Linked DNA regions of Homo sapiens. The protein of the gene in region 3 interacts with the protein of the main gene of each other region in a biochemical or structural test. Each region holds a gene or a part of one and is shown on either strand. Other genes may lie near its edges. The genes, in order: MAST1, MPP7, RAPGEF6, CRB2, PDZRN3, CLDN14 and DGKZ.

Region 1 (3,562 bases), on a different chromosome or scaffold from region 3:
GAGATGTCCAGAGACGGAGGGGGTCCAGGAGATGGTCCTATCCTGTTAGATGTGTTTAGACAGAACTGGGAAAGGCTAGAATAAGAAATGTCTATCTGGAATGAGCATGCCAGGCAAGGTTCAGCCAACTGAAATCCTATTTTCCCTTATAGATAGGAGGAGCTAGGTGGGAGGTGGGTGGGGCCAGAAGGGTATTCTGTTTGTTTGTTTGTTTTTAGTATTCTGTTTTGATCAGTGAGTTTGGCCCAGACAAGTACAGGGATTTGGGTGAGAGGAGCCAGACGGGGTTGAGATAAGTACATTTCTTCCCACTCTTATAGGTGGGTTGTAGTGGAAGAGGCGGGACTAGAGGCAGGTGGGACCAAGTTGGTTTTGTTTGGATGTGTTTCTAGCCTGGACTGGGAGTGGCCAAAAGGTTGGGCAGGACCTGAAGTGGGAGGAGGGAGGAGCCAAGCAGCACTGAGTTAAGGGAAGTTCTGTCTTGATAGGTGGGTTGTAGTGAAAGACGGAGGGACTAGAGGGGTGGGCAGGACTAGAAGAGGTTGTTTTTGGCCGGGCGAGGTGGTTCACACCTGTAATCCCAGCACTTTGGGAGGCCGAGGTGGGTGGATCACCTGAGGTCAGGAGTTTGAGACCAGCCTGACCAACATGGTGAAACCCCATCTCTACTAAAAATACAAAAATTAGCTGGGAGTGGTGGCTCACTCCTGTAGTCCCACCTACTCAGGAGGCTACTCACGAAGCTGAAGCACGGTAATCGCTTGAACCCGGGAGGTAGAGGTTGCAGTGAGCCGAGATCGTGCCATTGCACTCCAGCCTGGGCGACAAGAGCGAAACTTCGTCTCAAAAAAAAAAAAAAAAATGGTTTTGTTTGGATGAGTGTTTGTAGCCAGAATTGGGAGTGGCCTAAAGTTGGGCGGGGCCTGAAGTAGGAGGAGCTAAAGGAAGTTCTATCTTGATAGGTGGATTGTAGTGGAAGAGGGAGGAGCTAGAGAGGTGGGCGGGGCAGAACAGGTTGGTTTTGTTTGGATGCTTGTTTCTAGCTTGGACTAGGAGTGGCCAAAGGGGGTGGGTGGGGACTGAAGTGGGAGGAGCCAAGCAGCACTGAGCTAAAGGAAGTTCTTTATCTTGATAGGTGGGTTGTAGCTGGAGAGGGAAGGGCCAGAAGGGGTGGGTGGTTACCGTTGTGAGGCCGTGAAATGGGAGGAGCCCTGAGCTCTGGCGTCCAGGTCAAGGACGCTTGGCCCCCTCCCTGTCCCGCAGCAAGAAGCGCAGCTCCCTCTTCCGGAAGATCACGAAGCAGTCGAACCTGCTGCATACTAGCCGCTCGCTGTCGTCGCTGAACCGCTCGCTGTCATCCAGCGATAGTCTCCCGGGCTCGCCTACGCACGGGCTGCCGGCGCGCTCGCCCACGCACAGCTACCGCTCCACGCCTGACTCCGCCTACCTAGGTATTACCTCCTGCACCTGCGCGGGGACCGAGCAGCGCGGGGTGGCCTGGCTGGTGCTTGGGCTGTACTCACTCGCTTCACCTCCTGTCTCCCGCAGGCGCCTCATCCCAGAGCAGCTCCCCAGCCTCGAGCACGCCCAACTCGCCTGCGTCGTCGGCGTCGCACCACATTCGGCCCAGCACGCTGCACGGACTGTCGCCAAAGCTCCATCGCCAGTACCGCTCTGCGCGATGCAAGTCGGCCGGCAACATCCCTCTATCGCCGCTGGCACACACGCCGTCCCCCACGCAGGCGTCACCGCCGCCACTGCCGGGCCACACGGTGGGCAGCTCGCACACTACTCAGAGCTTCCCGGCCAAACTGCACTCATCGCCTCCCGTCGTGCGCCCGCGCCCCAAGAGTGCCGAGCCCCCTCGCTCGCCGCTCCTCAAGCGCGTGCAGTCGGCCGAGAAGCTGGGAGCCTCTTTGAGTGCGGACAAGAAGGGCGCGCTGCGCAAACACAGCCTCGAGGTGGGCCACCCGGATTTCCGCAAGGACTTCCATGGCGAGCTGGCGCTGCATAGCCTTGCCGAGTCCGACGGTGAGACGCCCCCAGTCGAGGGCCTTGGCGCGCCCCGGCAGGTCGCCGTCCGCCGCCTGGGCCGACAGGAGTCACCTTTGAGCCTGGGCGCGGACCCGTTGCTGCCCGAGGGTGCCTCCAGGCCACCAGTGTCGAGCAAGGAGAAGGAATCCCCGGGGGGCGCCGAGGCGTGCACCCCACCCCGCGCGACGACCCCCGGTGGCCGGACCCTGGAGCGGGACGTCGGCTGCACGCGGCATCAGAGCGTGCAGACGGAGGATGGCACTGGCGGGATGGCCAGGGCTGTGGCCAAGGCGGCGCTGAGCCCGGTGCAGGAACACGAGACAGGCCGGCGCAGCAGCTCTGGCGAGGCGGGCACACCCCTGGTACCCATTGTCGTAGAGCCTGCGCGGCCCGGGGCTAAGGCTGTGGTGCCTCAGCCTCTGGGCGCGGACTCCAAGGGGTTGCAGGAACCCGCACCCCTGGCGCCTTCCGTGCCCGAGGCCCCCCGGGGCCGGGAGCGCTGGGTGTTGGAGGTGGTGGAGGAGCGCACCACGCTGAGCGGTCCTCGCTCCAAGCCCGCCTCCCCAAAGCTCTCCCCGGAGCCCCAGACACCCTCCCTAGCCCCAGCGAAGTGCAGTGCACCCAGCAGTGCAGTGACCCCAGTCCCACCCGCATCCCTCTTGGGCTCAGGCACCAAGCCTCAAGTGGGGCTGACCTCCCGGTGCCCTGCTGAAGCTGTGCCCCCAGCAGGCCTGACCAAAAAAGGAGTGTCCAGTCCCGCACCCCCGGGACCATAGCCAAGGGGGTCATCGGCCCCGCGCTGTACAGCCTCCGTATACATATGTACACATATAAATAAAGTGCGTCCGTGCTGCGTGAGTTTTCTGGGGCTCACTCCTCTCCAGGCAAGGCGAGACATCACACGACCCCACCCCCATGCCCAGGTGCTTTTTGGGAGGTGGGACTCCAGTTCTGGTTACCATGGAGAGTGGAGGGAATTTTGGATAGACACCTCCTGTGGTCCCACTTCTGGTCTCACCTCTGCACCAACTGCCCCCAAACCTTTAGGGGGAGAATTGAAGCTGCGATGCTCTTGTGTCCCAGCGCCCACCTGAAGAGAAGGTTAACAGCCTCGTCCACCAATTTCCATTTATTTACTCCTCAACAATCCTGATGGCAGGTATTATGTTTCCCATTTTGCAGACAGGTAGACTGTGTCACAGAGCGGTTAAGGCACACAATCAAGGTCATACAGCTAGGAAGGGGATGAACTGGGATTCAAAATCAAGTCCAAACTGGTTCCTGAGCCCTTAGATTTTTTATTTTTTATTTTTTTGACACAGAGTCTCATTCTGTCACCCAGGCTGAAGTGCCGTGGTGTTAGCTCAGCTCATGACAACCTCTGCCTCCCGAGTTCAAGCGATTCTCCTGCCTCAGCCTCCCGAGGAGCTAGGACCACAGACGCGTGCCACCATGTCTGGCTAATTTTTAAATATTTTTAATGGATATGGGGTTTCACCATGTTGGCCAGGCTGGTCTCGAACTCCTG
Region 2 (4,093 bases), on a different chromosome or scaffold from region 3:
CACACCTGGCTAATTTTTGTATTTTTAGTACAGATGGATTTTCTCCATGTTCACCAGGCTGGTCTGGAACTCCTGACCTCAAGTGATCCCCACCTGCCTCGGCCTCCCAAAGTGCTGGGATTACAGGCATGAGCCACCACGCCCGGCTGATTACCACGTTCCTTCGATGTCTCATTAAAAGTGTTTCAGGAGCCTTCGTGTCTCACATTTTTAAAGCCAGGAAGTATTTTAGTTGGCTATATAACATAAATGTAAGAGAGCCAAATCCTAAGAATATGTGATCCTTTCTTATCTTCGTTGAGAAACCTTTAAAATGTCTAAATAGTACAATAAATCTTTATGTTGCAACATGCTGAAATAATTTGAGTCTGCATTTCATTGTCACATAAGATTTCACAATAACAGAAAATTTAATTTTAGTGTTGATCAAGAGCCTGAGTAACTAACATTGTATGACAGTACCTACTCAGAACGGATATGTACTGTTGGCATGTAAAAAAAGGTATTTATCAAATATACTGGGAATCAGAAATGTGATCTGTATTTTGTAACCACAATGAACAGTTCATAAATTAATATAAACTAAAGTTAATGATGAGCTAATTAAGAGGGGCAAGAAAAAAATAAGCTCTTCACATTTAATTTCTTTGCTTTTGATTTTTGGTCCAAAGGTAGAATATATTAAGATTAAGAAGAAAAACAATAAAAGGTCTTGCCAGAACCCATAATAGTCATGAATATACCACAATCATCATTTCCAATAACACTCATAGAAAATACAAATATTATTGCTGAATAATATTGGTCTACTTATCCTATACCCAAAATAGTGATTTTCTTTTGCTGTGCTAAATATAATTGTTGACACAAGGAGACAAGCAAGGCACATTATTAAATTTTTCATTTGGACTCTTAATGAGTAACAGTTACTGATGGTATTTTTAGCTTTAAAAATAAGGCTGCTCTGAAAATTAATTGGTCTAGATTTTATACAAATGTTCAGCCTACAATAGTATGAAATGTTCACATAATAGTATACAAAATAGTTTTGAGTCAATTGAATATGAAGATCCATTCACCAAAGCACAAGAAGTGTAACTGTTCAAAAGGTATGTACCTAAATACAATTCTTTCACTGATTTTTGTATCTATTATACTCTTCCCAAGTACATGCAGCTGTATATATGTTTTCATATATACAACTGTATCTTACATCTTATCTACTGCTTATATCTTATCTCCAAGCTTTTTGTGGTTGTTGTTGAGACAGGGTCTCACTCTGTCGCCCAGGCTGGAGTGTAGTGGTGTGATCTCAGCTCACTGCACTCTCAGTCTCCTGGGGTCTTGTGATCTTCCCACCTCTGCCTACCAGGCTGGAGTGTAGTAGTGTGATCTCAGCTCACTACACTCTCAGTCTCCTGGGGTCTTATGATCTTCCCACCTCCGCCTCCCAAGTAGCTGGGACTACAGGTGTCCAACCATCATGCCTGGCTAATTTCCATATTTTTTGTAGAGATGGGGTTTCACCACCTTGGCCAGGCTGGTCTTGAACTCCTGGACTCAAATGATCCTCCTGCTTCGGCCTCCCAAAGTGCTGGGATTACAGGTGTGGGCCACCACACCTGGCCCCCAAGCATCATTATACTTACTGTGAAGGGTTTTGCAGCACCTTGGTCATCTCTGCTTGAAATAATCTTTGCATTTTTTCTTGTTTCTCTCAAACGCTCTATTGATGGAGGCTTTATAAATATCACATAGGGCTTAAATTCTAGTGTCCTTAAATGCTTCACTGTCTACAAGGAAGAAAAGAAAGTTTTCTCACATTTCTCCATAGCATCATGAATTACTGAATTTTCTTTCTAGGAGAAAATTCCTCAAAATTATTCTTTAAGGTCAGTAGTCATTTCAATATATTATTATTCAATTAACTGTTGACAATTAAATGTAACAAACACTTCTGAAAAGAAGCTGGGGAATGTAACTTGGCATTTTAAAATGTTCTGAAATACATCATAATTAACATTGAACAGAAGTGACTAAAAATATCACAAAACTGGTTTTTAGATCAAATATTCCAAAGGTGTGATGAGTTAAATAACTTTCTGTCCACAAATGTCTTCCAACCATCCCTTTTAAGCCCCTTTCTGATTTCAGGCAGGAGTTCTCCTCTTTCACCCTATCCTTCAGAGTACCCTACAAGGGCAGCCTCCTGCTCTCCATGATGCCTGTCTAGATTCCTTCATCAAATCTTTGATGTTCTATACTCTATACTTCTGGGGACCTATCTACAGAGGGTGAGAGCTGAAAGTTATTATTCATGAGCTGATACTACACTGTGGGAGTCTGACAGCAACTGGACCTGGGACACCAGCAGAGAGGCTCTGCATAAGCAGGACTGTCCCATTCACTGTTGGTGCCTGATATGGTTTGGATCTGTGTCCACACCCAAATCTCATGTTGTAATGTAATCCCCACTGCTGTAGGTGCAGCCTGTGGGAGGTGACTGGATCATAGGGGCATTTTCCCGGGGTTTAACACCATCCCCCTTGGTGCTGTCATCACAATAGTCAGTTCTCGTGAGACCCTGTTGTTTAAAAGTGTGTGGCACCTCGCTCCTCTCTCTCTCTTCCTCCTGCTCTGGCCATGTGAAGTGCTCAACCCTCCTCCTTTGCTTTCCGCCATGATTGCAAGTTTCCTGAGGCCTCCCCAGAGCTGAGCAGATGCCAGCATCACGCTTCCTGTACAGTCTGCAGAGCAGTGAGCCAATTAAACCTCTTTTTTTTTTTTTTTTTTTTTTTTTTTTTTAGTAAATTACCCAGTTTCAGGTATTTCTTCAGAGCAGTGCAACAAGGGACTAACACAGTGCCCAAGTCAGGAGGCAGCCTTCCTGATTCTTGAAACACTTTTACTCCAGATTCATCTTCCTTTAGAGGTCCAAAGGGCTTCCGCAGGTCATTCTAGCATTTGGAGGTTTTGCACCCCAGGGTACAGCCATCAGTGGAAGGAGAAACCATGGTCCCTGGGGGATGAGGAAAATGCTGTGGGCTGGGGATCTGCTGGAAGATGTATGGTTTGATAGGGAATTGAATGGCCTCATCCACTGAAGTTCTCAGTTCAGAATGTTCATAATGGAGTTTCCAGGATGACAGGTGCAGACATGGCAGTTGCAATGGGGCTTTCATTCAGTACATTTCCTGCAAAATGCCCTTCAGTTCTAGTGGGGGGTTATTTGCTAGGATATATACAGAACCAAAGTCAAAGACTTGGAACCAAAATGTCCATCGTTAAAAATTATAGACACTGTTACTAATACATAACACATAAGAATGCATTATGCATGTAACAATGTGATGTATTTTTTAAAAATACAGAATATGTAGAAACATCTAAGAGTTGCTTTACTTGACAAAAACTGAATATAAATAAGAGTTACAAACACAGGTCTTGGAGCTTCCTCCACTTCTCTTTCTAATAATATTATGGGCTTTTCTTTTTCTCCACCAAAGATGTCTCCAATTATATTTAAATGCTTTTGCCATCTCAGAAAAGCCACATATATGCCAAAAGTGAGTTGACTTCATATTATTTCATACTGAAATGCTCACATGAGGTGCTGTAGATGACATGGGTCAGAAGGGTATTGAATAGCTCATTGTTTACTTACATGAGGCTGAACATCCAACAAACAAACTTTGTTTTTAGCAAGGACAGACCGAACTGAGTCTATACTTGTGCCGTAGTAGTTGTTTTTATATTCTCCATATTCAATAAACCTGTAAAAAATTAAATGCATTGGAATCATTTGTGAATTTAAAACAATTATAGGTGGCAAGATAAAATTCATAGGTAAAAGACGTTTCTGCTGAACACGTAATTTTTTTAAACTGTGTTTAATAATATAAACAGAGCCAAGTATTTCAAAATGTCAGTTTTTAAAAAATCTTTTATTATACATTTTCAAATCAGTAACACTTGCTTAAATTACACTTAAGCAGAAAAAAAGTACTTTAGTCTAGTAGGGCTCTAATGTTTTCCATCACCCCCTTTTTCTTCAGAACTAATGCAATGCAATAAAATGGTGAATAAGCCAAAC
Region 3 (4,093 bases):
CTAAATGTCATTAGGGGTTTGGATAATTGAAATATATAAAATACATATCATGGAGTACTATGTCTTCATTAAAAATAGTTTTGTAGAAGAATATAATGGCATTAAAATGTTTTATAAGATATTAAATGAAAAAATTCTGGCTTCCAAACCATATATATAGTATGAGCCCAAGTTTTGTTTTTGGGTTTTTCTATCAATGATTTGTTATCTGAAAAAAAAAAAAGGATATATTTATCAATAAATGCAACAGTGACTTCTGTTAATATTGTGAAATAGAAATGTATATTTCAGTGTTCAGAGGGATCACTGTGTTTCACGTTGCTTTTTGAAGGGTTTAAAAGTGATTTTTTTAAAAAATAACAAAGCATATCTTTCTATTTATGTAGATATCCCTGATCAAGTTATAAGAGTTTTCAAAGTGGATCAGCAAAGTTGCTACATTATCATCAGTAAAGACACCACAGCTAAAGAAGTAGTTTTTCATGCTGTTCATGAATTTGGTTTGACCGGTGCATCCGACACATATTCTCTCTGTGAAGTTTCTGTTACTCCTGAGGGTGTCATAAAACAGAGAAGACTTCCAGATCAGTTCTCCAAATTAGCTGATAGAATTCAACTCAATGGAAGGTGAATAAGCTTATTAGTGGATGTGCTTATTTGTAGATGTGCTTTTGAAGATTTCCTGTTAAAACAGCTATTGTAAGTAGAAACATTATCATGTTTTAGTGCTCCTAAATTCACTCCAGAAGACGCTTGATAAAATATCTTGTCACTCCTGCTAAAATAAACTCTTAGAACCACTGATATAATCTAGTTCCTGTTTTTTTATAGAGGAAGCTGAATGATACAAATCTTCATATATATCTGAATGACTGTATCTACTAATTTATAAATTTGTTTTTAATATGGCCAGTATGTACTTTGGCAAAAGAAGCCATGGTTTTCACAGTTCTTTTTCTAAGTAGTTTTCCTTTAATGAATATGCAGGAAAATTTTAAAAATTTTAAAATGTGTTCTGAAAATTATTTAATAAACTAGATTATTTCTGTAGTACATTTGTTCCTTACTCTGGTTTTTTTTTTTTTTTTTGAGATGGAGTCTCCCTCTGTCGCCCAGGCTGGAGTGCAGTGGCGCGATCTCAGCTCACTGCAACCTCCACCTCCCAGGTTCAAGCGGTTCTCCTGCCTCAGCCTTCTGAGTAGCTGGGACTACAGGCACATGCCACCATGCCTGGCGAATTTTTGTATTTTTAGTAGAGACGAGGTTTCACCGTGTTGGCCAGGCTGGTCTCAAACTCCTTACCTCAAGTGATCTGCCTGCCTCAGCCTCCCAAAGTGCTGGCATTACGAGTGTGAGCTACCACACTCAACCACTCTGAGAATAATCTTTTTGGTAACCCAGTTTCATATGTAGAACAAGATCCCTAGAAAGCTTACAGTGACTGCATGCCATGGTTGCTGTGAAATGAGAATGAGTTAACTCTGTTTTGCTGGCTGTACATAGTGGTTAAGAGCATAGACCCTGGATTCAGATTGCCCACATTCAAATCCCAGCTCTGGCTATGTGACCTTGAGCAAGTCATATGTAGCTTCTCTACCTGAATTTCCTCACCCATAAAATGAGGATAGTAATAGTAGAATATACCTCATGGGAATGTTGTAAGGATTAAATGAGTTACTAAGTATACCATACCTTATAATGTTAAACATTATTATATATAGCATAATGAGTTTCAGCACTATTATTTATGGCATTGTCTTAGGCATATGAACAGTCTAAAAGCAGAAAAAAGAGTTTCTTGACAGTAAAAAATAGATGGATAGATGGATACAAACTTAGGCTTAAATCAAGTTGGATTATTAGAAAAGAACGAAGTAAAAGCAGGTGATACATTACCTCGTTTCCTTAGTAACATCCCTGCACAAGATGTTTCCTGTCTCTTACTTTTAAGTGCTGTAGAATTGTTGATTTAAGAGAAGAAAGCAAAATATAGGTCTTAATGTGTGGTAACTGATAAGTGCCACTTGCTGGAATGAGGTTTTGTATTTAACAAGGGAGAAACCATTAGTGGAAGTGTTTCCCCTCCTCTGTAGATTTCATTCCTCTTGCTTCACTTGGAAATTTATTTAAAAAGGAAGTGAGTGGAGTAACTTCTGAATAGAGATTTTTAACCGTCTTGATTCAGGAATTTATTTTGCCTTAATTAGAATTCATGCTATTCATAAACAAATATTTACATAGTACCAATCCTCTGTCAGATAAAACAGTAAGATAAAAGCTTTACGAGGGCAAGGCCAGTACCTAAAATAGTATCTGACAGATAGTTTCATAAAATAATTAAGTTCATGACATAACAACATTATTTTTACTCTTTAATAGATGCCAGTTGGTAGAATAAGAGACAGACTTCTCAAAAATCTTTTCATTTAAAATGTTAACTTTTCATTTTATCTGTAAATTAATATTTTTGGCTAAAAGTTATTAACAGTAAAATGATATTTTACAACGACAAAAAGGAAAAGTGCTCTTATTTAATCATATTTATGAATACATTTATTTAAAAAAATTTTTCCATTTAGGTATTACTTAAAAAATAACATGGAAACAGAAACCTTATGTTCAGATGAAGATGCTCAAGAACTAGTTAAGGAAAGCCAGCTATCCATGCTGCAGCTCAGTACCATTGAGGTGGCCACCCAGCTGTCAATGAGGGACTTTGATTTGTTTCGTAATATTGAACCGACTGAGTACATCGATGACCTTTTTAAGTTAAATTCCAAAACAGGAAATACTCATTTGAAGAGGTTTGAGGACATTGTAAACCAAGAGACATTCTGGGTTGCCTCAGAAATTTTAACTGAAGCAAATCAGCTCAAACGAATGAAGATTATTAAGCATTTTATTAAAATTGCACTTCATTGTCGAGAATGTAAGAACTTCAATTCCATGTTTGCAATAATAAGGTAAGTTGGTACAAATAGGTACAAATGTCTGTATGGTTTTGTCATTACATGCAGCTGATTTTCTACTTAGGTATTCAATGCCTATGAAAAGAAATGTTCAATTAATATGCCTTTATTGAAGTGTTGTTAGATTTAATGTATTTTCCATTTTGGTGGTATTGGCTTTTTCTATTTTTGTTTCTTCCATCTTTCTTTTACTTCTTTTTTGTAAATGAAAGTGGGTGATTGCCTTCTAATTTTTCTTTCTCTCCCTTCATCTCCAACCCCCCGCCTTGAGTGATTATATCATCTTTGGATATGTGCCCAGTGGCTGGTCTTTATCATTAGACTTCTGTACTGTGCTTTTTTAAGTACCTGCCTCACTATGATTTGACTCTGAAAAATCACAGTATGGTATCAGTACTTTGACCTAAAGTTGCTATTTTGAAACAACAACATTGATAATAATGGCAACCATTTGGTAAGCTCTTCCTGTTTGCCAGGCACTACATGAGGTTCACTGGATGTGGTGTTCCTCAAGCAAGTTAGGCTGTTAGAATAATAAAAATGTTTTGACATTCATAAGCCCAGGAAGTGTAGATAATTACGTGAGCTCTCCCACTCCCTTCTTCCCACTTATTATGAAAAGTTAATTGTAGGTAATTTATTTTCTGATCTTTATTTAGCACACTGTAGATCAACAAAGGGATTCTTCTTAAAACAAGTTTAATTTTAAAAGGGAGAGGAGTTGTAGTTAGCTCCATTTTTAAGGCCATGATGTGCTTATAAATCGCAGCATAATTCCACTTGAACTAATCCTACCTATACACATCCCCCACAGAATTCATAATGATTTGTTTCTACTCCTCATGTAGATTAAGATTAAAAAGTAGAATCTTTATAGGGACTCTTTATTCATGACCCTGTCATGGTAATAGGATGTGCCTTTATTAAATTAACCAGTGTCTACAACTGAACTGAACACTCTAGGAGTATTGAATAGAGATTAACAGAGTGGTCTTTAGAATCAGCTGCACCTGTATTTGAATCCTGCCTCTCCCATATAGTAGCAATGTGTCAGTGGAAAACTGAAGATAGGTTTTCTTATCTGTAAAATACCACCTATATCACAGTTTTTAAACAGCTAAGTC
Region 4 (4,750 bases), on a different chromosome or scaffold from region 3:
TGAGAAGCTGGATAAAGAGAGCTGGCACTGTCGCCTTGGCTCACTAACGCCACCATTTTACAGGTGAGGAGACTGAGGCCCAGAGAAGGAAGTCACGTGCTGAGGTCACCGGCTAATCAGTGGCTGAGCTGGGCTCGAACCCAGATCTCTTACGCTGTGAGGCCTCTGCTTTTCCTGTGGCATGGAGAGGGGCTTCTCCCACCTGGGGAGAGGGATCCTGTTGTATTGGAGAGGCAGGGGATTAAAGATGGACTGAGAGAGGTTAGTGTCCCAGAAACCAAGGGGCAATCCCTGCCCTGGAGAGAACAGGCCTCAAGGGCAGGGATGGGGCAGGGGCAGTGGATAAGGAGTCTACCCAGGCCTTTTTGGGTTCCCTCCTTTGGTCCCTGGGGACCCAGGGCTGTGGCACTTGCCCCGGGCTAGAGGGTCGGCCAGGGCCTGTGTGGTGCCCACTGCTCCCTCCCCTGCACTGCAGGGGACCCTTGCCCATCCCTCTAGCTCATCTGGACCTCCCTCAATGGCTCCTGCTGTCTTTCCAGGCTGTGTCCTCCCGTGTCAGGGACACATCCCAGAGCCCAGGGCCTGCGTGGGCTGTATCCACGGTTACTGAATAGGGACAAACAGGCATGTATTGGCAGGGGCCGGTGGCTCATTTCAGGAAAGTCCCTTCAGCAAGAGGATTCTCTCCCCACTGGGGCTGAGGGTGGTAGAAGAAAGGAATGTTGTTCTATGTTGTAGTGTCTCTGAGATGACCTGGCTTCCTGAACCAGGTCCCCCTGAAGAGCTCCTCCTGTCCACCCCAACAAGAGGCCAGCTGGAGAGCAAGCAAACATCGAGTGCAGCAGGAGACTATAAGGTTAGACAACAAGAAGGACTTCCTGGCAGGGGAGAGCAATGCTTGCTTGGTTAGAGCTGCCTTTCAGTAGAATGGGCTGCTTTGGATTGCAGTGAGGTCGCTGGAGTTGCAAACAGCAGAGCCAGAGATCAAGGTCAAGTGGAAGAAAGCTGGGAAAGGTTCAGTTTGGCTGGTGAAGGGTGGAGAGGGTAAAGGGAGGCAGGGACCACCGTGGTGCAGGGGTGAGGTGCCCTGCAGGGAGCTGATCCTGAGGCCGATGGTGGGAGGAGCTGTGTGTGGTCGGGTGGGACGGGGTGGGGACAGCAGGAGACACTGAGAAGGTGGCATGGCCAGGAGCTAGGGGCTGACCGAGTGTGGGGAGGGGGGAGTGGGGAGGGGGCGTTGGGCTGCCCGATGGGAGGTGCCTTGGCTCCGATGGGAGCACTGGGGAGCAGCAGGTGGGGGGACGAGCTGGGTGGGAGGGGCTGCAGCTTCCCAGCAGAGACAGGGTCTGGGAGGCGACTGGACTCGAAGGCCTGGGCTTGGGAGAGAGGCCCGGGCTGGAGAGGTGGGGAGGGGGATCCAGGAGAGGGGATAACTAAGGACTTGGGAGTAGCTGGCATCACCTGGTGAGACGAGAGTCCTGAACAGCCCCCTCTCCAAGGACAGAAATTTCTCCAAGGAGGCTGACCTGAGAGGTGGGAGGAGAGTGGGGCAGAGGGTCAGGAGGGAGAAACCAGTGGGTGCCAAGACCAGGTCAGCCCCACAGGCTAGGGGGCTTGAGGACTTGGGGCTGATGTCTAGGGACGTCCACGAGGTGGAGCAGCCCAGGAGGCCTGGGTGGGAGGAGGAGGCGGTGGCGGGGAGGGGAGGGAGGGGCTGGGCCTCTGTCCACAGCATTAGTGCTGGTTGGAGGGACGAGGGGGGTGCGGAGCCAGCCAGGCCGCCCTCCCGTTCTCACAGCAGCCGAGCAGAGCGCAGAGCGGGCTGCCATGGCGCTGGCCAGGCCTGGGACCCCGGACCCCCAGGCCCTGGCCTCTGTCCTGCTACTGCTGCTCTGGGCCCCTGCCCTTTCCCTCCTGGCTGGTGAGTTGGGGCCCATGTCTGGAGGGGCCTGGGAGAGGGTCTGTCCCCCAAGACAGATACCCCAAGCCTTGGCTGCTGGGGTGGTGGGTGGGCTGGTCCGCGTGGGTGCAGGCCTGAGCTGTGGGGTGCACAGGAGTGCGCGGCTGTGGCCCCCAGACTCTGTGGGGCTCCACGGAGGTGAGTGTGTTCTGAGGCTCGGGGCTGTTTCATGTTGAGGGGGGTTGTAAGTTTCGGGGTTGGGGGATCGGGGGCTGGGCATGATTTGGGGGAGCTGATGCGGGTGAGGGATGGGGTGCGTGTTTTGGGAGGTGCTGTGTTGCATCCTGTAAAGGGCTGGGGGACTTCTGGGTTTCTAGGGGCTGAGTTTGGGGAGTTGCAGGTGGCATAAGCCTCACCCCAGAGCTTGTTCTGTGTCGCATGCTGGGTTGTGGGGCACAGGTTGTGGGTGTGTTAGAGTTGGGAGGTGGATGAGCTGTCTGGGGTGAGCCGTGAGTTGTGTCCGAGGAGTTGGGTGTGGTGAGCTGTGTCCTAGCACACGCTGTGGGGTGTAGGTTGTCCAGGGTTGAACTAGGTCTTTGCTCTCAACATGAGGGGTGTGGGATGTGCACAGCCGACCCCAACTCGGGACTGAGTGGAGAAGCGTGAGGGAGACTCAGGGAGCTGGGTGCCTGCCCGCACCCCTCCATTTGTGCGGTAGCCCTGCCTGTGCTGAGGGCTGCTGGGGATGCTCTGGGTCCCTGTGGGGTGGCTGGGGATTTGGGAACATGTGTGTGTCCCCTGCTGCCCCCTCCCCAGCATTCCAAGGCCAATCTGAAAGGGCTCCCTGAAGCCAGACCACATTTGCCAAGCCCTTTTTGCTTTTGTCCAAGCTCTCGGAGCCTGGAATTCCTCCTGGGGGGTCCAAGGGAACGCTTGGTGTTAGTTACTATAGTTACAGGGGCCGGGCCTGGGAAGTCCCCTGCCCCCACCACCACAGGCTGGGGAGGGAGCCAAGGAGGGCCTGGGCTCTCCTGAGGCTGGGGGAGCCCTCCCTGCCCCAGAGCTCCACAGGCTGTAGGGTGTGGGGGCCAAGTGTCTCCCAGTCCCACCTGGGGACCCTCATGTTTCCCGCACTCACAAAGCTTTCATTTCCTATCCTCTCTATGGGGCCCTAGGGAGGATGAGGACCCCATTTTGCAGTGAAGGAAACCAAGGCTCAGAGAGGGACGGGGACTTATGAGCTGGGCTCTGCTGGCAGGCGACTTGGGCTCCATAGAGGGGTGGGGCATGGTGGCGGGGGGCGGGGTGGCTGCTCCTCTCTGTTCTCTGCATACAAAGCACGTGAGATCCCGGTCTGTGGATCGGTGCTCTGTCCCCTGCCCTGTGATGCTCACACACCCACACTCCGCACACCTGTGTGGCATGCCCAAGGGCACACAGCACCACAGGGACAGGTGCTACAGACACATGTGGATCTACCAGCACATGCACCTACCTACACACATGGCATGTGCCTGCACACCAATGTGCACACCCCAACACGCACATGTGGACATGTGTGCATTCACACTCAGTGTGCACTCACAGGGGACCTGGAGGCACAGAGTGGATGGAGGCTGTGGGGGGTCTGGACACTGGTGTGTACACTCAACCCATCAGGCCTGCTGGGTTGCCCAGGGGCAGCCTTTCCTCTGCCATTTCTGTGCTGGGAGCGCCATCCCTGGGGATCCCTAAAAGTTGGTGGGGTACACTGCAGGCATGACCATTTCTGCATGCTGGTACCCTAGACTGCCTGCCGGGAGGGGAGGGATTGGGGATTTTGTCACTTGAAAACCAATTTCCATCCTGGAGGGGATGGGGGCTTCTGGAGGCCATGGGCCCCTGGCTTTTCTCCCCACCCCTGCCAGGCCCTGAGCTGGGCCTCTCCATCCTGGGCCCAATTTGCCACAAAGGCCCGGCTGGTTGCCATGGAGAGGACCAAGCATCTTGGAGTACAATGGGGCACGTTGGGCTCTCATATCCACCCTCCCTTCCCCAAACACCCAGGGAGCCCAGCAGACAAAGGGGCAGTGAGTCCAGGCCCCAAGTCCGGCCCCTCCTCCAGCCAGAAGGGGGTGGGGGCCTGCAGGACAGAAGCAGAGATGGAGCAGAAAGCCACACACATTCAACCCAATGTCAGGATCCTTTGGACAGTGGGTGTCTGCCTCAAGTAAAGAATTGTTAATGAGTAAGATCAGCCACTCCATGGCAGGCACTGTGCTATTATTAACGAGGTCTAATTTAATTCTCCCAACAGCCTATGAAGTCAGCTCTGATACCCCTAGTTTACAGAGGAGGTAAACGAGGCCCAGAGATGGCCAGTCCCAGAGCCAGGAAGCCCCAGAGCCAGTGCTGGGATTTCACAGTACACTGTGCTACTTGCCTAGGCAAAGTCACGTCTCTTCTCTGTCTCTACAAAACGAGGACAGACTGGCTTACTCCGAGCGCTGGTATAAGGATTGGAAGAGAATGCAGTGAGCGGTTCCCCACCCCAGGTTTTGGCATGGAACCCCCAATTTCAAGGGAAATTTTAGATGGAAGCCCATGAATAGTTAATAGTAAAATTGTTAAAAGTGGCCTGTTTGGGTGGCAGGTGGGGAACCCCACCTGCTCTGTCTCCCCCTCACTTCAGGAGGTAACTCCCTGGAACTGTGCTCTGAGCCCAAACTCTCAAGGGTTGGTCAGTGCCAGGCACAGGGTAGGTGCTCCGTCCCTGACAGCTATTGTTGCAATTACTGTTATCAAAATTATGTCTTTTAACCTCAGAAGGTAAACATTTTTGAAAAAGAGTATGCCAAATTATTCTGCCCA
Region 5 (4,093 bases), on a different chromosome or scaffold from region 3:
GTGGTCCATTGAGACTCTTCAAGTTCATCTAGTGGAATATTCCATAGCCTGAAATGTTGGACTTCTGAATTCCTGTGTGTTTTGAGTTTTCTCAGTGGGAGACAATATTGCACACAGAGCATGTAATGTGCAAGAGGATCCGCTTCGCCTCAGTTTGAAACTGAGCCATACCACTTTTTAGCTGTGTGACCTTGGATGAGTTTCCGAACCTCTCTCAGTCTCAGGTTTTTCACCTGTGGAATGGGTAATAATAGTACTTACCACTTGTGGTTATTGTGAGGATTAAACAGTGCACATAGAGCACTCACTATGTACCTGGTACCTAGTTTGTGCTCAGTAAAGGAAGCTGCTTTGCAGCTTTATACATATATTTCAGGTGTGCATGTAGGGAGCTACACGGATGTGTTCAGACTAGTGCCTCAGTAAGGCTGCCGTGAGAGAGGAAGGAGGCACAGAGGTATTCAGATGGTAAAGGGTTAGTGTGCAGGAGGTCTGTGCAGAGCACTGTGATGCTAGGCAGGGATGCCTTTTGAGGATAGATGATCCTACACAGCACCCACAGGCTCCCTGACCCTTCTCTTGGAAGAGCGTTGATGGAATCCAGATGCCAGTTAGAGACATATCTTTGTCATGTGGGGATAAATGTCAGGAAAAACACTTAATGCTCATTTTAGGTTGTGATTTTGGTTTCTTTTGGTGAATCATATAACATTTTACTCTGTGTGTGTGTGTGTGTGTGTGTATGTGTGTGTGTGTGTTTGGGGAAGTGTGAAGAAGGAAGGAGAGAAGGACTGAGAAATGTACATTTTTCCAAGCTTAGTTATTGCTGTTGCATTTGAAGGGGTAGACTGAATCACACTTGAAGTCGTTTCCTTCCCCCTTTAGAATATAGGGATTGTTTTTTGGTTTTGTTTTTTGCTGTTTAAAGTGGAAAATGTTTTATTTGAAGAGTTATTTTTAACAAATGGAATTTTTATGTATTTGTATTCAGAGTAATTGTTATTGAAATAAATCTTCTAATGACATACGGCAAGGAATTTACCATGACTAGATTTTGGAGTTTTTGTGGAACATTCTGAGCTTACATTTCAAATGATTTTGTTTGGAAATATCACATGCTTGTGCCATTTAATTTATAAATCCATCTGTTAATCACTAGAAATTTAATCCGTACACTTGGAGAGAATTCATTGCAGTGCTGTTTGAAAAGAAGTTCGTGAACAAGCTGTGAGGGTTTTTTATGAGCTTGTTGGAGCCTTTTGATTTTAAGGAAAGGAAGGAGTTTGAACAGTGAGCTGTCTTCGTTCCCAGAAAGTTTTAGTTCTGACATTTAATTCAAAGATCTAAAGAGATTCAAGGAGGTCAGAGATCAGAATTTATTAGGACTAGAGTGATGGTAGTGCATCGGAACAAAAACAAAATATCTGTTTTCACAGTCAAATTATTAGATATTTACAAGTTTAATAACATTCTGTGCAAATGAGGATGTGGGAAAACACTCTGTCTAATGAACAATAAGTATAAACTCTCTGAAAAGCCATTTGGCAATATCTTTGAAATGTACATATCCTTTTACCCAACAGTTCCATTGTTAGGGATTTGCCCTAGAACTATAATAGCAAAGATAATTTAAAATACAAGTAGGAGAGTATTATCACAGCATTGTTTAATCACAGCAAATGAAAACAGTGTTTATTAGCCTCATGTTGGATACTGTTCAGTCACTTTAAGAAGTAAGGCAGACACGAATTGGTAGCAGAAGATCTTCATGATTTTTAGAGTTAAATGAGAGAGGCAAGGACATAAGAGTCAGACTAGCATAATCACATTTGTATGCAAAAAGGAACAAATGCATATTTAGGAATATGATGTGTTAAAATGTTTTCAAAAGGATGCATAAAGTCAAATAGCTACCATAGGCGGGGGAAGAAGGACAATGGGTTGGAGATGGCAGGGATGCATCATTTTATGTCCTTTGGTGTGGTTTGAAATATTTTACTGTGTGTGTATTTTAGTTTAAAACAGAAATTAGGAGAAACAAATACCTTTTACCCTATTGCCACTCTTGACACAGCAAGAGTCAATTACTGTTTTAAGAGTGCAAGCTTTACTTTCATGCTCAACTTAATGCCTAGCATTCATGCATGTTTTTTTTTTTAACCCAAAGGATAACCACGATGGATCATCCAGTGAAGGAATCTTTGTATCCAAGATAGTTGACAGTGGGCCTGCAGCCAAGGAAGGAGGCCTGCAAATTCATGACAGGATTATTGAGGTATGTGAATACTGGCCAGTGTCTTTGAATAGGCTGAATGCCATCCCATCTTCGTCTAGCTCAAAGCAAGATGTTTGACTGGGGAGGGAGGCCTAAAGTGGTAGATGGTTGAGCGGGAGTCTCACTTTTCCCATTGTGTGGGACCAGATTGAGTGTTGATTGCCTTGGTGTTAAATTTTTGTTAAATGTAGAAAAGCCAGATTATGAGTGGAATGTTCACAATTTGGCTTTTTTCATGTGGACCTCAATCTGTTTCGTATGCATCAGTTACAGTTTCGCGCGAAAACCGTTGAAGAGTTGGATGTTAGAACCAGATGAACGAACCCTGTTGTACAAATTGTGCACCCTGTTCATATTGATTACCAGGGTACAATTGTGTCAGCTTTGGAGTCATTCTAATGTCCTCAGAGCTCACACAGCACACACTTATTTCTACAAATGCATTGTTCTCTCTGTTAGTTTGTCGTCTTTGCCTGTTGTTAGTTGTACAACCTGATTGCCCAGGGATTTGCAGGCAGAGGTTGATATTAGGGTTCACATATCATCACTTACTCCATTTTCAGTTCGTCATTCATCATTTCAAACTTTTATACAGCAGGTTTGTAGACTCATGTAGGGGAAGTGGATCTCTCAGCCCCACCAGACAACACTTTGTAACAGGGTTGCAGTGTTCTAGGATGCTCTGAGTCACTAAAAGGGAGAGAATGATTTGTTGCCTTCTCATATGGGCTCTTGTTGCAAAGTTTGATATAAATGAGTAATTTTTTACTGGTGTTTTGACCATTTTCATAGCTCTTTGGATGGATACACATATGGGCTAAATTGATTGGCTTTCCTATTAGGCAAAAAGTAAATTTGAGAATCCACGATGATATGCCAGACCCCACAAGAAATTCACCCATGGGCCACAGCCGTAATATAGTGCAAATAGAAGAAACCAGAAAAACAGCACCGATACCAGTGGGTGTTTGTTTTCCACATGCATTTTTATCATGTCTGTATTTCCTGAGTATTTTCATGGCCTATTTCAAAATTTAGGACTGAGTGGGAGCTAGGACCACGAGCTAAGCCATAAGTGAAGTTCACATCACTCACTGGAATGTGGCCACAGGCTTCTCCTGGGGAAAGGAGCCTCAGCAAGACAGAGAACAAAGTCTTGCATTTCCAGTCTCATCTGGACACATTCTGCAACGTGCAGTATGCTTCAGGATAATTTGTAATCCTCAGGAAAATACACAGTTAAATCTCACAGGGAAAGCAAACTGAACTAGTTAGGGTGTAAGGCTCCCTCCTCGGAGGGAGTGTGATGTGCTAACTTACATGCTAAAATGATACTTGATTTTGTTTTAAGGACATTATTAATATTGTTGCATCCCCTTTGAATGTTTGAAGGGTTCTTAAACTTGGAGCTTTTTTTGCTGCATGGTTTAGAGTCAGTCTTTGTACTTCCCAGGTCAGGAGACTGGATTTTCCCTAACAGGAATTTGCTTGGGCAAGAGTGCTTTCTTAAGAGCTCAAATGCGTTACTTACTGTCTTTTTTGAGAGTGAATACATTTTCTGAGACTATTGTTCAAAAAGATAAGTACAGCTTCCGTTGCCAAGGGTTTGGTGGAACAGCCAGTTTCTCTAAGTAATGGAATTTCATTGCTCTTGTGTTTTGCAAATGAGAAATCTACAGCTGGGCAGGATTTTCTCTTGGCAAAGGATGATCTGTATTTGAAATGTTGAGTACGGTTTCTGGTAAGTCACATTCCTATTTTGGACAGTATGTAAAATATTAATCATGTAGTGTTGAGATGGAAAGAAGGATGACCACA
Region 6 (4,093 bases), on a different chromosome or scaffold from region 3:
GAGCCACTGTGCCTGGCCCACCCTGCAGATTTTGGACTTGCCAGCCTTGAGAATCATGCAAGCCAATTCCTTAGAATAAATAGATCTCTTTCTATATAAATGCATATTCGATTGGCTCTGTTTCTCTGGAGAACTCTGACTGATACAGAGGATGAAGGGCAGAAGAGAGGAATTTTCTTTTGGACTTGTTCAGTTTGAGATGTCTGTGCCTACCCACCTGGGGATAACCATGGTTGCATATGTAAGTGCAGGGTTCAGGGAGGGACTGAACTGGAGAAGTCTGTTTGTGTCACCACCGCATGGAGATGGGATTAAAATATGGGATGGAGTCTCTTAGGAGGGAACGTTAGATAGAGAGGAGCAGGGGCTCCAGGGCTGATTCTAGGAACCCTCCAACATCAGGGGAGGGATGAGGATAGAGGTAGGAAGAGGAGCCAGCCACGGGCTGTAGGAATGGGCGATAGTGAACGGTCAACCCAGAGGAGACTGGTGAGGGAGGACAGAGCTCCATGTTGGAGAGAGCAATCTACTCTGTCAAGTCAAGTAATCTGATAAATCAAGTCATCTGAGCACTGAGAAGTGGTCACTGGATTAGCAACATGAAGGAAATTGGAGACCTTGATAAGCTCAGTTTCGGCGGAGTTGATTGGAGTGGGTTCAAGAGAGAATAGGGACAGAGGGACAGGAGGGAATGAGCCCAGAGAATTCTTTCAGGAACTTGGACCCTCCAGGGGAATCAGGAAATGAGGCAACAGTTTTAGGATGGGTTCCAGGGCCCATAGACCTCAGGATATCTGTCAACTCAGCCAGGAAAAAAAGTGACATCTTCTATTTCATCTACCTCTCACTGACAATTAGCATTTCCTTCAATCCTGAATGTAGGCAGCCACCTACAGCAATATGACCAGTGCCTGTGCCTTAATCAGCAATAGAGACCATGATATTTTGCATCGCATTACAGGCGTTGCAGATACCTGCAAAGGACATTTATCACTCTAACAATTTCAAATGATACTTATAAGATGCTTGCTAGACCTCATGATGTAATGCATTAATAAGGAAGGTCGTCCATTACTAGGAACAGAATTGCACTAAAATATTTTGATAACTATGTTTTACTATAATTCACTTCCTTTATAATCCTGCATGTTATGTGTTATATTACACATTTAAAAGTATTGTGCTGAGAAGAATACATCAGCTTCGCCAGATTGCCAAAGGAATCCCAGGCAATCCCCATCCCGCCACCCAGAACAACACCGATAACAAAAAACTAAACCAAAAGAGTTAGAAACCTCTGCCAGTGGGATGTGTAGGCAAGAGAGGACCCTTGTTTTGCTGTTGTTTTGAAGATGAGAGGCATGGAAGCATGTTTGCATGCCTGAGGAAATGGTTCAGCGAGGAGGGAAACATCTGTAGGGGCAGTAGGGATCCTGTGTGCACATGGAGAGACCAGCTCTGACCAGCATGCAGAGAACTCACTCCAGAACGGGAGGGGAGGCGGGAGCAGGAGGCTGGGGGAGATGTCAGTGGGCAATAACGCATGTTCTGAGTTTGCTCCAAGTTTCTCAGGGAAATAAGAAGCAACATGATGTCTTGAGACAGGAGATGGGGGAGGAGGTGCGGGAGGCTTGAGCACAGAGGAGGAGACCATGGTCATCCAGGAGAATGACCGCAGGCCTGGACCAAGTCAAGGGGTCAAGTGCTAGTCAGTGCCGGGTGCAGGTGGGGCAAGTGGTCCTGCGGGTACCATAGACTATCACGCCGGACAGCCTTTCCCAGCACCATCAACTGCACTGCGAGGGTCCCAAGTGGACAAAGGGCTGGACTGGACCTGGTGGGGATTTTCCTAGGGGAAAATGATGAAGGCAGACAGCCAAGGGAAATATGCGTGCACACAAAGGTGTGAACATCATGGCGGGCCGTGGCGTCAAAGCTGGGATGGAGGGACATTGAGGACAATAGAGAAGGTCTGTTCATCGTGGAGAAGTCACCTGGATCAGTGGCTCTCCACCCTCCTGCTGTAGCCGCAGCCCTTGGAGAGCTTTAAAAAGATCCGGATGCCCTGGCTACCTCCAGAGATTCTGATTCGCTGACTGGGGTGGGGTCCATGCATGGGAATTTTCGAGCTCCTCTCCCCCACCCGGTGATTCTGATGTGCAGGCAGGTTTGAGAACCAATGGCTTATTTATTTCATTAAAAATTATTTTTCACTCTGTTGGCCAGGCTGGAGTGCAGTGGCACAATCACGGCTCCCTGCGGCCTTGACCTCCTGAGCTCAAGTGATCCTCCCGCCTCAGCCTTCCGAGTAGCTGGAACTTCAGGTGTGAGCCACTGCACCCAGCCCCGCTGGCTTCATTGATTTAACTTTTTTTATTTTATTTTATTTTATTTTTTTGAGACAGAGTCTTGCTCTGTCACCCAGGCTGGAGCACAGTAGGATTACAGGTGCACGCCACCACACCCAGCTAATTTTTGTATTTTTAGTAGAGACGGGGTTTCACTCCGTCTAGGCTGGTCTCAAACTCCCGACTTCAAATGATCTGCCCTCCTCGGCATCCCAAAGTGCTGGGATTACAGGCATGAGCCACCACCGTACCTGGCCTGATGTAACTTTTAAAGGTCCTATTAGGAGCTTTAAAGAGTCCAAAACGGTTTAACAGAGAGTCATAGTTCAGATGTCTGTTCTGCTGGGCCTGCCTGCTGAGTGCAGGCTCTCTTTGGGATCTCCTGAGATGGAGACAGGTGTCTCTGGCCTGTCCCTGGAATATTGTCTCACCTACCCATAAGGCTAGGCTCTCCCACTCCCTTCGCTTGAAATCCTCTTCTCCAGCTACAATCTTACCTTCCCTCCTGTGGCCCTGCACCCTTGCCTTCTGCCATCTAGAAAAAGTGGTTGGGGGGGTGGTTCTTTATTTATCTTGCTGCCTTCTGGCTCTTACCTTCCCAGAGCCCCACGGAAGCCTGTTCTTACAACCTGGGTCCTCTTCCTGGGACCCCAGCCCACTGTGGGCACTGAGCCTCCCTCATTGTTAATCTTGGCCAAGAAGTTACCCCACAGGCATTTATATTTTAATGGATGACTATTTTTTTTTTTTTTTGAGTCAGAGTCTCACTTTGTCACCCAGGCCGGAGCGCGGTGGTGCGATCTCAGCTCACTGCAACCTCCGCCTCCCAGGTTCAAGTGATTCTCCTGCCTCAGCCTCCTGAGTAGCTGGGATTACAGGCGCCTGCTACCATGTCTGGCTAATTTTTGTATTTTTAGTAGAGACCAGGTTTCACCATGTTGGTCAGGCTGGTCTCGAACTCCTGACCTCATGATCCACCCGCCTTGGACTCCCAAAGTGCTGGGATTGTAGGCGTGAGCCACTGCCCTCGGCCCATGGATGACCTTTGAAAACAAATCTCCTCCTGGCCCAGGCCCCAAAGCATACACTCACAGTGGTGAGAATGATTGGGTGAGTCTTCCAGAAAAGCCTGTGATAGTTTGATATAAAGACATTTAGAATTAATTGGGTCAGGTATGAGATTTCAGATTGCAGAAATCCTTGTGTAAGCAAAGGCCTTGCAGCTAAAGTAGTGCATGGCAGGTGTGGCTTAGCCTTTAGACATACACACAGTGGCCAGATTGTGCATTTGCTCTGAAGAGTACCAGGCCCTGTAGGTTACCTTTGCCTGCTCTCAGGACTTGCTAGATAATTTGCAGAACCCAGTGCAAAATGAAAATACAGAACCCCTTGTTCAGAAATTATTAAGAATGTCAAGATGGCGTCTGCAGAACATCAAGCCAAGTGCAAGCCTGTCTGAGCACGGGGCTCCCTGTAACTGCACAGATCATGTGCCTGTGAAGCTGTCCCTGCCTGCTATGGACATGCTGGGAACTGGACATTGGGATTTTCCCCCCTTAAAACAATGAGTGCATTGAGTTAGAATGTTGAAAGGAACAGAGACGCTCTTGCAGTGTTCTGTAGAATCGAAAATATGGTTTCATATGTTTACTTTACCTTCATTTAAGTGTAGCCCTGATGCCTCTGCGAATATCTGCCATGGAAGAGCCTTTTAAAAACAAAGCTCTTGCTGGTCTCCAGTGCCC
Region 7 (4,093 bases), on a different chromosome or scaffold from region 3:
ACCCTGGGGAGCACCACGACTTTGAGCCCCAGCGGCATGACGACGGCTACCTCGAGGTCATTGGCTTCACCATGACGTCGTTGGTGAGTGGGCCCTGGGCCCATGGTGCCTGGGAGCACAGCCCAAAGGTGGAAGGGGTCACCCATACTCACCTCCATGGGCCACGGCGGCCTAGTTCACCCTCACCTCCCTTCTTTGTCTCATTCCTCTGGCTTGAGAGCGGCACCTACCCCCTCTCCTCACTATGCCTCGGGATACCTTCACTCCCCACTCTGACTGGAGCGTCACCCTCATTGCCTCTGTCCCTTCCCTTTCCTACCTGGGGTCTCAGCCTCCCCTCTGCCCTCTGGCCAGGGGTCACTCTCACCTTTGTTCTCTGGCTAGAGTTTCTGCTTCGGAAGGAGCAGAGTCTGGGACCCCCCTGCCCCCAGCCCTGGTGCCATCTGACCCAAGCTTCCTGTGCCCACAGGCCGCGCTGCAGGTGGGCGGACACGGCGAGCGGCTGACGCAGTGTCGCGAGGTGGTGCTCACCACATCCAAGGCCATCCCGGTGCAGGTGGATGGCGAGCCCTGCAAGCTTGCAGCCTCACGCATCCGCATCGCCCTGCGCAACCAGGCCACCATGGTGCAGAAGGCCAAGCGGCGGAGCGCCGCCCCCCTGCACAGCGAGTACGTCCCACCCTGCCACGTGCCCTGGGTGCCAAGGCCAGACCCTGCCCTCTCTGGGCCTTGATTTCCCCATCTGTAAAAGGGGCTGACTGTCCCTCTGCCCCAGGGGTGTTGGGAGTGGAGCGGGACCTTCTCTCGGCAAGTGGTTTGGTGCCAGGCCGAGGGTGGCACCAAGGCAGGGCCCTTGCTGAGCCCCCGCTTGCCGGCCCTGCCCGACAGCCAGCAGCCGGTGCCAGAGCAGTTGCGCATCCAGGTGAGTCGCGTCAGCATGCACGACTATGAGGCCCTGCACTACGACAAGGAGCAGCTCAAGGAGGCCTGTGAGTGCGGTGGGGCGGCCTGGCAGGGTGGCCAGGAGGGGCTGAAGCAGCCGGGGCCCCCTTGGGCAGGGCTGTGGGGTGCAGCCAGCTGCTGACAGGTGCTCTGTTCTCCAGCTGTGCCGCTGGGCACTGTGGTGGTCCCAGGAGACAGTGACCTAGAGCTCTGCCGTGCCCACATTGAGAGACTCCAGCAGGTAAGGGGTGGGGGCTTCCCCAGGTGCCCACCGAGAGGGTGGTGGGAAGTGAGGCCAGGCCTCTTCCTCCCGCAGCCAGCTCGCCCTGCGGAGCCTCCTCTGTGCTGGTTCCCCCTACTCCAAGTTCCCTTCCCTCCCTGGCCCCCACTCTATCCCAGCCTGGCCTTTGCTTCTCTCAACAGGAGCCCGATGGTGCTGGAGCCAAGTCCCCGACATGCCAGAAACTGTCCCCCAAGTGGTGCTTCCTGGACGGTGAGTCTACTCCCAGGGTGCCAAGCTGTTTCGTGTTCCCTCCCTAGGGGATCCCAGGTAGGGGCAGCAGAGGACCTGGGCCTGGACATGGCACTCCCTGATCCTCAGCTGCCCTCTCTCCCACAGCCACCACTGCCAGCCGCTTCTACAGGATCGACCGAGCCCAGGTGAGCGATTGCAGGCCTGCTCCAGCCACAGCTGCTTCCGGGCCCCAGGGTCGCCTCTCCTGGGACGCCTTCCCTGTTAGCTCCCCCGATGGGCTCACCTCTGTCCTCATGCCTCTGAGAGCTTTTACTATTGCCTGTGTGCATGGACAGCGTGCGGCCCTGCCCTCCACACTGGAGAGTATAGGGCGGTGCCAGCCAGAAAGGCAGTGGGGTACCTACCAAAGGCTTGCTGGGTGGGTAGGAGGGCCTGGAAGCCCAGAGCCATCCAGGGAGACACAGAAGCAAAGGCATTCTGGTCAGGCGCCAGCTCACCTGGTAAAGTCTGGGCAGTCGGAGGAGGTGTCAGGAATGGGAAGGAGTGGGAGAGGGACAGGCAGGGCCCCTTGCCTGGCCACCTCCTTTCAGTGTTTGTGCTCATGGCAGAGGCTTCTCCAGGTCTACCAGCCTTGCTGCCCCTCGGCCCCCACCGTCAGGTGCCCTGACCTCCCGCCCTGACCTCCCCCCACAGGAGCACCTCAACTATGTGACTGAGATCGCACAGGATGAGATTTATATCCTGGACCCTGAGCTGCTGGGGGCATCGGCCCGGCCTGACCTCCCAACCCCCACTTCCCCTCTCCCCACCTCACCCTGCTCACCCACGCCCCGGTGAGTCCTGGTGTCCCGTCCCTCCAGCCCCTGGCTTTCAGCCCCACCTGTAAGCCGATGACTTCTGAATCCCTGCTTCTAGCCCCTCCACCAGTTAACTAAATGGTGTCAACCTGAACCTGGCCAAAGCCCACCTGACGGCCTTCAGCCCTGTGGTTCTGTGGGGAAGCGGCCTCACGTCCACCCTGGTTCCCTCCCTGACTTCTCCCTCCTCTGGACCTCATCCTTCAGCCAGTCCTGGCAGCCCCCGGACCCACCACCTGAGCACTCCTCCCCACCCCTACTGCCACCAGCCCTTCCCGGCTGCCACGCCCTGGCCCCCAGCTCTTATATCCCTGTGGCCATTCGTGCCCTCGAACCCCCATCTCCATACCACGGTCAACTAAAAATGCAGAGCATACCAGGCCACTCCCCAACCTAGAAGCTTCTTTCTCAGCAGCCCTTTGGACGTGGATTCTCCCCAGGCCCCCCGTCATTGCACTGGGCTCCCAGCCCCCTCCCTGAGTTCACCTCCATGGTCCTGCCCCACTCTCTTCTCTTGGTTCTTTGAGGCATCAGGTGTTTGCCACCACTGGACTTCTGTCATCGCTGCCTCCAACTCTTCCCCCATCTTTCCGGAGCTCCCCCACCCCCATCCCCTTCGAATCTCAGCTTGGCTGTTTCCTCCTTGGAGAGATCACTCCCAGGACCCCCTCTGCAGGGGTGCCACATCACCTGTTCTGAATTCTTAAGAGCACCCCTGCTCTCAGAACTCCTTATTTATTTGACTTGTTTGTATCCCTGAACTAGAATGTAAGCTCCATGAGGGCAAGGCCTTCCTCTGTCTCGTTTCCCTGCTGTATCCCCAGTGCCTGGAATAGTGCTTGGTGTGTAGCAGGCACTCAATAAACTGTGGAAAGGATGAAGATGCCCCCAGTTGGGGTTGGGGAGGGCGACCAGCTGGCCTGTGCCGTAGCCGGTCACAGCACATCATGCTCTGTTGCAGGTCACTGCAAGGGGATGCTGCACCCCCTCAAGGTGAGGCCTCTCCCTCTGGGGCCCCTCCTTTCTGCCTGGTTGGGGGCAGGAGGCTCAGTGGGGTGGGGATAGGGCCCAGACACAGCCTTACACAAACACAGCCTTTGAGCTTCACGCACCAACGGAGCCCTGGGCACACATGCCTGGCCGGCACAGTCCTGTCCACTGAGGCACCAACCCAAGCCCAGGCCTCCGACTGCAGAGTAACAGGCAGGTATTCCGTGCAGGTGAAGAGCTGATTGAGGCTGCCAAGAGGAACGACTTCTGTAAGGTACTAGCTCCAGGCTCCAGTTCCTTCCCCCAGCAGCTCCCTCGGGCCCTGGGGAGCGAGGCCTCTGGGTTGGGCCAAGAGCTGACCTGCTCAGGTGCTGTCATCTGTCATCGTCTGGCCCTCTGTGGGATCTCCAGTGATCGTCCCATTCCACTTCACTGTATCTCTGTCTAGGCCACAATAGATGGCTCCTAGTAGGGGCTTCCTAGCTCAGTCCACCTGTCCCTGGTGCTTAGAAAGGAGCAGGTCAGAGGAAGCACTGCTCCAGGGCTTGGTCACCAGTGCTGCCAGAGAGCCCACAGGCTGTGGGGTGAGAGGCCCCTCCTCCGGTGTGCTCCAGAGAGACCCACAGAGGCAACTCAGGAGTAAGATGTGTGAGCGCACTCGTTTCAGGCCTGTGCTGGTGTACCCGGCTGTGGGCCAGCGTGTGAGCTCAGGGAAGGAGGGGTGGCCCCAGGAGGTCCAGCCCTGCCATGCCTCCTGCCCTCAGCTCCAGGAGCTGCACCGAGCTGGGGGCGACCTCATGCACCGAGACGAGCAGAGTCGCACGCTCCT

The links.
Region 1: the proteins of RAPGEF6 (region 3) and MAST1 interact in a test that uses a peptide from one of them, tested with the Homo sapiens proteins (one large-scale study listed by IntAct).
Region 2: the proteins of RAPGEF6 (region 3) and MPP7 interact in a test that uses a peptide from one of them, tested with the Homo sapiens proteins (one large-scale study listed by IntAct).
Region 4: the proteins of RAPGEF6 (region 3) and CRB2 interact in a test that uses a peptide from one of them, tested with the Homo sapiens proteins (one large-scale study listed by IntAct).
Region 5: the proteins of RAPGEF6 (region 3) and PDZRN3 interact in a test that uses a peptide from one of them, tested with the Homo sapiens proteins (one large-scale study listed by IntAct).
Region 6: the proteins of RAPGEF6 (region 3) and CLDN14 interact in a test that uses a peptide from one of them, tested with the Homo sapiens proteins (one large-scale study listed by IntAct).
Region 7: the proteins of RAPGEF6 (region 3) and DGKZ interact in a test that uses a peptide from one of them, tested with the Homo sapiens proteins (one large-scale study listed by IntAct).

Annotation. Positions count from the first base shown.
Region 1 is NC_000019.10:12,872,061-12,875,622, forward strand, and holds the end of MAST1 (microtubule-associated serine/threonine-protein kinase 1), read left to right. Parts: intron 1-1,263; coding exon 1,264-1,451; intron 1,452-1,548; coding exon 1,549-2,810; 3' UTR 2,811-2,892; downstream 2,893-3,562. UniProt on the Homo sapiens protein: Microtubule-associated protein essential for correct brain development. Appears to link the dystrophin/utrophin network with microtubule filaments via the syntrophins. Phosphorylation of DMD or UTRN may modulate their affinities for associated proteins.
Region 2 is NC_000010.11:28,054,831-28,058,923, forward strand, and holds part of MPP7 (MAGUK p55 subfamily member 7), read right to left. Parts: intron 3,774-4,093; coding exon 3,665-3,773; intron 3,020-3,664; exon of another isoform or gene 2,816-3,019; intron 1,794-2,815; coding exon 1,650-1,793; intron 1-1,649. UniProt on the Homo sapiens protein: Acts as an important adapter that promotes epithelial cell polarity and tight junction formation via its interaction with DLG1. Involved in the assembly of protein complexes at sites of cell-cell contact.
Region 3 is NC_000005.10:131,460,575-131,464,667, reverse strand, and holds part of RAPGEF6 (rap guanine nucleotide exchange factor 6), read left to right. Parts: intron 1-386; coding exon 387-627; coding exon of another isoform or gene 628-631; exon of another isoform or gene 632-1,055; intron 1,056-2,579; coding exon 2,580-2,963; intron 2,964-4,093. UniProt on the Homo sapiens protein: Guanine nucleotide exchange factor (GEF) for Rap1A, Rap2A and M-Ras GTPases. Does not interact with cAMP.
Region 4 is NC_000009.12:123,354,434-123,359,183, forward strand, and holds the start of CRB2 (protein crumbs homolog 2 precursor), read left to right. Parts: upstream 1-1,763; 5' UTR 1,764-1,827; coding exon 1,828-1,921; intron 1,922-4,750. UniProt on the Homo sapiens protein: Apical polarity protein that plays a central role during the epithelial-to-mesenchymal transition (EMT) at gastrulation, when newly specified mesodermal cells move inside the embryo.
Region 5 is NC_000003.12:73,600,536-73,604,628, reverse strand, and holds part of PDZRN3 (E3 ubiquitin-protein ligase PDZRN3), read left to right. Parts: intron 1-2,167; coding exon 2,168-2,275; intron 2,276-4,093. UniProt on the Homo sapiens protein: E3 ubiquitin-protein ligase. Plays an important role in regulating the surface level of MUSK on myotubes. Mediates the ubiquitination of MUSK, promoting its endocytosis and lysosomal degradation. Might contribute to terminal myogenic differentiation.
Region 6 is NC_000021.9:36,473,370-36,477,462, forward strand, and holds part of CLDN14 (claudin-14), read right to left. Parts: exon of another isoform or gene 4,005-4,093; intron 1-4,004.
Region 7 is NC_000011.10:46,374,963-46,379,055, forward strand, and holds part of DGKZ (diacylglycerol kinase zeta), read left to right. Parts: coding exon 1-83; intron 84-469; coding exon 470-669; intron 670-888; coding exon 889-989; intron 990-1,103; coding exon 1,104-1,183; intron 1,184-1,365; coding exon 1,366-1,435; intron 1,436-1,439; exon of another isoform or gene 1,440-1,522; intron 1,523-1,561; coding exon 1,562-1,602; intron 1,603-2,110; coding exon 2,111-2,250; intron 2,251-3,235; coding exon 3,236-3,267; intron 3,268-3,494; coding exon 3,495-3,538; intron 3,539-4,028; coding exon 4,029-4,093. UniProt on the Homo sapiens protein: Diacylglycerol kinase that converts diacylglycerol/DAG into phosphatidic acid/phosphatidate/PA and regulates the respective levels of these two bioactive lipids.